2 linked regions of the Homo sapiens genome follow. The protein of the gene in region 2 interacts with the protein of the main gene of each other region in a pairwise test. Each region holds a gene or a part of one and is shown on either strand. Other genes may lie near its edges.

What was found.
Region 1: the proteins of ZMYND12 (region 2) and ARMC8 interact in binary tests that used the Homo sapiens proteins (3 or more experiments, as listed by UniProt).

What each region holds. Positions count from the first base shown.
Region 1 is NC_000003.12:138,218,301-138,221,800, reverse strand, and holds part of ARMC8 (armadillo repeat-containing protein 8), read right to left. Parts: intron 1-3,500. UniProt on the Homo sapiens protein: Component of the CTLH E3 ubiquitin-protein ligase complex that selectively accepts ubiquitin from UBE2H and mediates ubiquitination and subsequent proteasomal degradation of the transcription factor HBP1.
Region 2 is NC_000001.11:42,432,023-42,435,522, reverse strand, and holds part of ZMYND12 (zinc finger MYND domain-containing protein 12), read left to right. Parts: intron 1-137; coding exon 138-249; intron 250-2,234; coding exon 2,235-2,380; intron 2,381-3,500. UniProt on the Homo sapiens protein: Required for sperm flagellum function and male fertility.

The sequences.
Region 1 (3,500 bases), on a different chromosome or scaffold from region 2:
AAAGTACTAATGAAGGGATAGAGATAGGTGCAGAGTGAATGTGGGGGCTGTAAAACGGCGTATTGTAGAAAGTGAGAGATATCCTGAGTACTGGCGAAAGACTTCCAGTACAGAATTGAGTTCTTCTAGAAAGGGTACCTACCAATACTTTGGATACAAAGGAATACAGGCCACCCTCACGCTCAGCTCTAAGAGTAGGGAGTGAGTTAAACGAACAACAACAACAACAGAAAAAACAGCCCACAGAACATTAACTCCTTGTTTCAATGATCACACTTTGTTCACTTTTTTTTTTACTTCTTTATATATTATTTCTTACAATTCCATTTTATCTGCTTTATTGTCTTACTAACTGTACTCCTTTGTTATTTTCCAATGCATCTTTTAATTTATCACAGTCAGTCTTCAAGTGATATTAGCCCATTGCACATGTATTTTAAGAGCCTTGCATATGTATTTCCACTTTCCCATTCATTTTTTGGGCTGCTGTTATACAATATTTTTAAATTGCTTAGAAACAACATAATACATTGTTACTATTTTTGCTTAAGCAGCCAGTTATCTCTTAAGGCGATTTAAAAAATAACAAAGAATCTTTTACATTTCTCAGATATTCACAGTATTTTTTATTCTAGCTATACAGAGCTCTATACTTCACCAGGAGCAAAACTCTATTCCACAATAAGAGAACCTCTACCACTGATCACTTGGCTCACAAATTTGTGGTTGGTTCAAAAGGAAATGTAGAGAAAAAATAAATAGCTCAAAATAAACCCAGTACTACTAATAAAATGTTTAAAAAAACTTCCCTGGCCGGGCACGGTGACTCACACCTGTAATCCCAGCTCTTTGGGAGGCCTAGGCAGGCAGATTGCTTGAACTCAGGAGTTCAAGATCAGACTGAACAACATGGCGAAACTCCATCTCTACAAATAATACAAAAATTAGCCAGGTGTGGTGGCACGCACTTGTGGTCCCAGCTACCTGGGGGGCTAAGGTAGGAGGATCACTTCAGCTGGGGAGGTGGAGGTTGCAGTGAGCAGAGATCGCGCCACTGCACCCCAGTCAGGGTGACAGAACGAGACTCCATCTCAAAAAAAAAAAAAAGAAAAAAAAATCAACAAATAAATGTTATAGTCAGCATACATTTCTAACACCAATCATATTTACTGGCATTAAAGAACCTGGTAACGATTAACCCTTGTCTTCAATTGCCTTTTTTGATTATTGCAGAAAAATACTGCAACAACTAGTGATGTGCTAAAAGCAGATTTTCCCTACAAGTTTCTGAATGGCATTTTTACAAGTCAAGCCAAATACTGAGAATGCCTGGTCTTTCTTCCATTAGCTCAGTGCCTGAGGGTAGGGCTTTTTTTCCAGGCCTGACCTATCCCTCTGTAAAGTATCCCTCAGATCTTCTATATGGTTTACAAGAAATAAGTAGCAATTTTTTTGTTGTTGTTTATGGGACTGAACTGAATGAAGTTTACTGAGGTTGTTAGCAAGTTCTGATACATGAATATAAAACTATATGATATCAAAGGATCAATTAGCAAAGTTAAAGTTAGTAAGAGATTTCTAAGCTCCCGCATCCTCATGGATGCCTGTTTTCTTTAGAGGCTTTAGTTCCTAATCATCAGCATATGGACCTTAACCTACCAGCTTGTTGTTCACTTTCATTGTCTTCCTTTCTCTTAATGTGTTCTGCCTATACTAATGTAGAACATTCATTTATCCAGCCCCTACCTACTTAGAGTCTGTGTAGGCTAAGTGCCATTCTGAATGCTTTCTATTCCAGAACTCCCAACCCTAATATTTCCCCAGTTTTTCCTCTCCATTCTTCTTAAGCAGAAATGAGCGGTCCCTAACATTACCAAATGAACCCATTCCAAACATCTCAAACCATGCCATGTTTTTACAGACAAGAGCAAACAAAAACCTGTCCAACACCAATTTTCTAATTCTCTTAATAGTTTACAAAAAGGACATGAAGGAGGTAACTGATGGCAACAGAGGAAATGCCAACTAAAGAGAACACAATACAATGGAACAATGTCTAAAGAAAAAGATTCTCGCTTTGGCTTTAGTAAGTAAATATACCTGTGCTAGATAAGGAAAAAAAGATGTTAATAAATTCTATTCAATTGTTGCTATAAAGGAATGTTAATAGATCACTTCCATGAAGAATTAAAATCAAAAGGATTAACAGGATTAAGCAATCAATTTCAGATGACAACATTCAGCCATCTAGATGAAGCTTCTTTCAGTTCCCAGAGTGTAGTTATTCTTTCTCCGTCATCTCCTTATCCCCTCCCTCATACTTTCCCCTGACTAGCTTTACTCATCCTTCAGGTCTGAATGTCACTTCCTCAGGAAGCATGCCCTGAAACCCCCAGGTCATCACTTTGTTAGAGTAAAAGTCTATCTCCTCCTGAGAGGCAAGAAAGCCAATCTGACCTGGAAATATCAAAGCAGTTACTGTCAGTAGATCATTATTTATAGTGATTCTAGATATCCATTATTTTTGTAAAATGCAAACTCACAGCTATCATCCAAGATGGGAACACAACAACACTATCCAAGATTTCTACATTACTTTCAAATTTACAAAGCATTCCATATCCACTACTTAATTTCATCTTCATCATAATCTAGAGTAATATTAACTCCATTTTACAGAGAGAAAGCTACAACTCAGGATTGGCCTTTTTTCAGAACCCAATATTAAATGACAGAGCCAGTCTCAACCCATGTCTTTTATGCCAACTGTTTTTTCCATTATGGCCAGGACATCAGACATTGACAACGAACCAATGGAAAAGACAAATGAATTCAGTGAATTCATTTTCTTTTTCCTTCTGTGTTTTAATGTTACATTTTTATGCAAAATAAAAGTGTTTCTAACTTTTAGTCAGATACCCTTTTCCCAGTAGACCAAAAGAATGTCATCTCATGCCCACTAACTTTTAATGTTGGGAAAAATGCTCTACTTACTTTTACTGAAATTCAACAACTAGTTTTTGAGCTCAGCATTGTGCTAGCCTCTATGAAGTATACGAAAGTATCACACAATGGGATGCCTGGTCTGAGGAGTTCACAATATCCGTGGAGTGGCAAAAATAACACTATCAATGTAAGTCAGTACTAAATTAAAAACTGAATGTTTATAAGGTAAAGAAAAGTAGATGCTCAATAAGCTTAAAAGGTTTTGAGGCAATGGTTAAGAACTAAGATAAACCTTAGACAATAGTCAGGACTTGGATAAGCAGATGGGAGGACAAAAGGAGAAATCGTTCATACAAGACCATATTGGAAATGAAAATGGCATGTTCCTGGGGCAATACAAGGAGCCTGAACTGAAAAACAAGTTCGCTTTAGGGTGGCATGGAACATAAAGTTAGAAAAGTGATAGGGAGATGAGACAAACTAAAGGGAGATGGATTAAGGAGCAATCATATTTTTGATCACAGAAGGGGCATGAAGGAAGCAGTGACTAAGGA
Region 2 (3,500 bases):
TCTGCCTCCAGGCACAGTAAGAGAGAGAACCTCCAGGTTGTCCAGAAGCCCGGCCAAATGCGCTACTCTCCTCACCTGCCTGGTCCGACGGCTGAGGTCTGGCCTGCTTGTTGTATTACCATCTCTTTTCCCAACAGGTCTCTGAGATCTGGCATGCATATTTGAACAATCACTATCAAGTCCTCTCACAGGCTCACATCCAACAAATGGATTTACTGGGCAAACTATTTGAGAATGACACTGGCTTGGGTAAGTGGCAGTTTTCCCTGAAGGGAGAGCAGTGACTTCATCTCACCCAATACACAGACCTTGTCCCTAAGAGGGAAAGCAGCTGTCCCTGTCATGAAGCACACCATTGCCACCTTCCCCATGTTGCTGATGGAGAAAACTGAGACACGGGGATCAAAGAGATTTTACCAGTGTTGGGAAGAATTCAGATCCCTATCATCACACATAGCCATTCGGGGGTTACTAAGGGACAGATTTAGAGGGAAAAAAAGACCACATCAAAGCCCCCTGTGATTTCTGCAGAGCATCCATTTCTATGTTATCCCTCCAGGGCAGCAGTCCCAATCTCTCCCTGGCACCAGGGACCCGTTTCATGGAAGACAATTTTTCCATGGACTGGGGGGCGTGGGAGGAATGGTTTCAGGAGAATTCAAGTGCATTACATTTATTGTGTACTATGTTTTTATTATTATTAATATATTGTAATATATAATGAAATAATTATACCATGCATCATAATGTAGAATCAGTGGGAGCCCTGAGCTTGTTTTCCTGCAACTAGATGGTCCCATCTGGGAGTGATGGGTGACAGTGACAGATCATCAGGCATTAGATTCTCATAAGGAGTGTACATCCTAGATCCTTTGCATGCACAGTTCACAATAGGGTTCACGCTCCTAAGAGAATCTGATGCTGCTGCTGAACTGACAGGAGGTGGAGCTCAGGTGGTAATGCAAGCAATGGGGAGTGGCTGTAAATACAGATGAAGCTTTACTCGCCCCTACCACCCCTGCTCACCACCTGCTGTGCAGCCCGATTCCTAACAGGCCACAAAACAGTTCTGGTCCATGGCCTGGGGGTTGGGGACTCTTGCTCCAGGACACGTAAGCCAAGGTAGACTCTACACAGAAGGTGCATTGCTGATTTCTTCTGGTGCCTTAACTTCATGCTTTACTGAACAGTGAGCTTCTCAGTGGCAGGGCCCAGTTGGATTAAACTGTATTCCCCGGGCCAGCAAAGGGCTAAGTGTTGAATAGTACCGTACAGCATCATGCCCTCAGAGACAATGAAAAGACACAGAGGATCTAGTTTCTGCTCAAAAGAGACATACAGTGCAGTTGGTGATATAGAACCTATAGGCAATAACAAAAGAACATTCCTGTGAGTACAAATTATGTTACAAGATGAGTCCCAGAATGAAGAGGTGAGGACAGCTGGGTGGTGTTGAAGAAGGAAGACTCTTTGGAGGAGAGGTTTTGAGCTAAAGTTTAAAAAATTAATAACTTTATTGAATTTTCTCTCATTATGTAAATAGTTCATGTTATAGCTGAAAACTTGGAAATCATAGATATCCAAAGATAGCCAACCTTAACATGATGGTGTATATCCTTTTCGTCTTTTTCTCTAAGCTTAGTACTTGTATAAGTGCTTTTAAATGCATGTAGTGACTTCTCAGTAAATGATGACTAAAGTAGGACCAAAAACTACTGGGGAAAATAGTAAACAGACTCTCAGAGGGAAGCATGAAGGTTGTTGCTTACGCATCTATGGCCTAGACGAGAAGAGTTAAGCTGCTGCAGCTGCAAGAAGTCCCTTCCCCCAGTTCTCTCCTCTCAGCTGTAGAGTGGAATCTGAGTTGGACCCAAGGAATCTGCCTGTGGCAGATTATCTGTGTTTGTAAGCCCAAGAGATCTAGAGTTCAGGACTCCGAAAGAGAGAAACCTTAGCAACTTTGGGACCTGTGGGAGTGAGCCTATTTTTAGGCTACTCTGATAATGGCATGCTAAGCAAAGCTGGAAAGCGGTCTGAAACTCCTGCTTCGGAGCTTCCTGCTTTGCACCTGGAGGGAGTCCTCTAGGTAAAAAACTTGCTGTAATTGGTGCTATTTCCACCAGTGCCCTTGGGAAGGCTTCAGCAGACCAGGCGCTTTAACAGCTGAGTGCTTTTGATGAGGGCAGACTCAGTTGCCAAGAGCCTGTTTTTTCTTTCTTCCCCTTCCAATGCAGATGAAGCCCAAGAAGCAGAAGCCATTCGCATCCTGACTTCAATCTTGAACATTCGAGAATCTACATCTGACAAAGCCCCCCAAAAAACCATCTTTGTTCTGAAGATCCTGGTCATGTTTTACTACCTGATGATGAATTCTTCAAAGGCAAGTTTCCCTAAAAAAGCAACACGTCTAAAATGAAGGTAGAAATTCAACTAGTTGAACTCAAAATTTGTGTTTTGCCCAATTCCAATAGCTTTTGCCCTCAGAGCAAGCCCTCACTCCAAAGAGGTTCAGATGCTCACGATGTTTCTCCTGTGTTGAGTCTAGCCTGCATAATGGAAATTGGATTGTCTTCTTCCCCCGAGGGTTCCCAGTCTTGCATAGATAAAGAGAGTCTGAGGCAGTGCTGGGAAGCCTGCAGGGCAGGAAGGCTCTGGGGAGCCTTGGATGGATGAAGTAGCCGCTCTAACTCCACTCAGTTACTGAGTTCCCTGTTGCTGCGGGGATTCAGGCAGAAATGCATTGCCATGAAATGATTCAAAAAGTAACTTTTTGAGTACTTTTACCTACCAGTTATTGGCCTAAACCCTTTACATAATTATCATACTTAATGCTTACACCAACATTAATGAGGTAGCTATTTTATTATCTCTACTTTACAAACAAGGAAACTGAGGCACCGAGAGGGTCAATTCTTTGCCCAATGTCTTACAGACAGCAAGTAGCATATCTCAGGTTTATTGACTTATTGGTTGATTCTCTCATTCATTCAAACATTTATTGAAAATCTACCATTTGTAAAGCACTAATCTAGGGACTGGGGATACAGTGGTGATCCATACGTTTCCTATCTCTATGGCACTGGTGTTTTTTGGAGGAGTGGAAATAAACATATGTATGTGTAATATAATTTCAGATAGTAGAAACTGTTATAAAGAAAACTAGCCAGGCACAGTGTCTCATGACTGTATTCCCAGTACTTTGGGAGGCTGAGGAGGGATGATTGCTTATGTCCCGGAGTTCAAGACCAGCCTGGGCAACATAATGAGACCCACTCTCTACTAAAAATAAAAATAAAAAGATCAGCCGGGCTAGAGGTGTGCACATGTAGTCCCAGCCACTCGGGAGGCTGAGATAAGAGGATTACTTGAGCCCAGGAGATTGAGGCTGCAGTGAGCCGTGCTTGTGCCTCTGCACTCTAGCCTGGGTGACAGAGCAAGATCCTGTCTCAAAAAAAAAAAAAAGAAAAAGAAAAAGAAAAGAAGAAGAAGAAGAAGAAAAA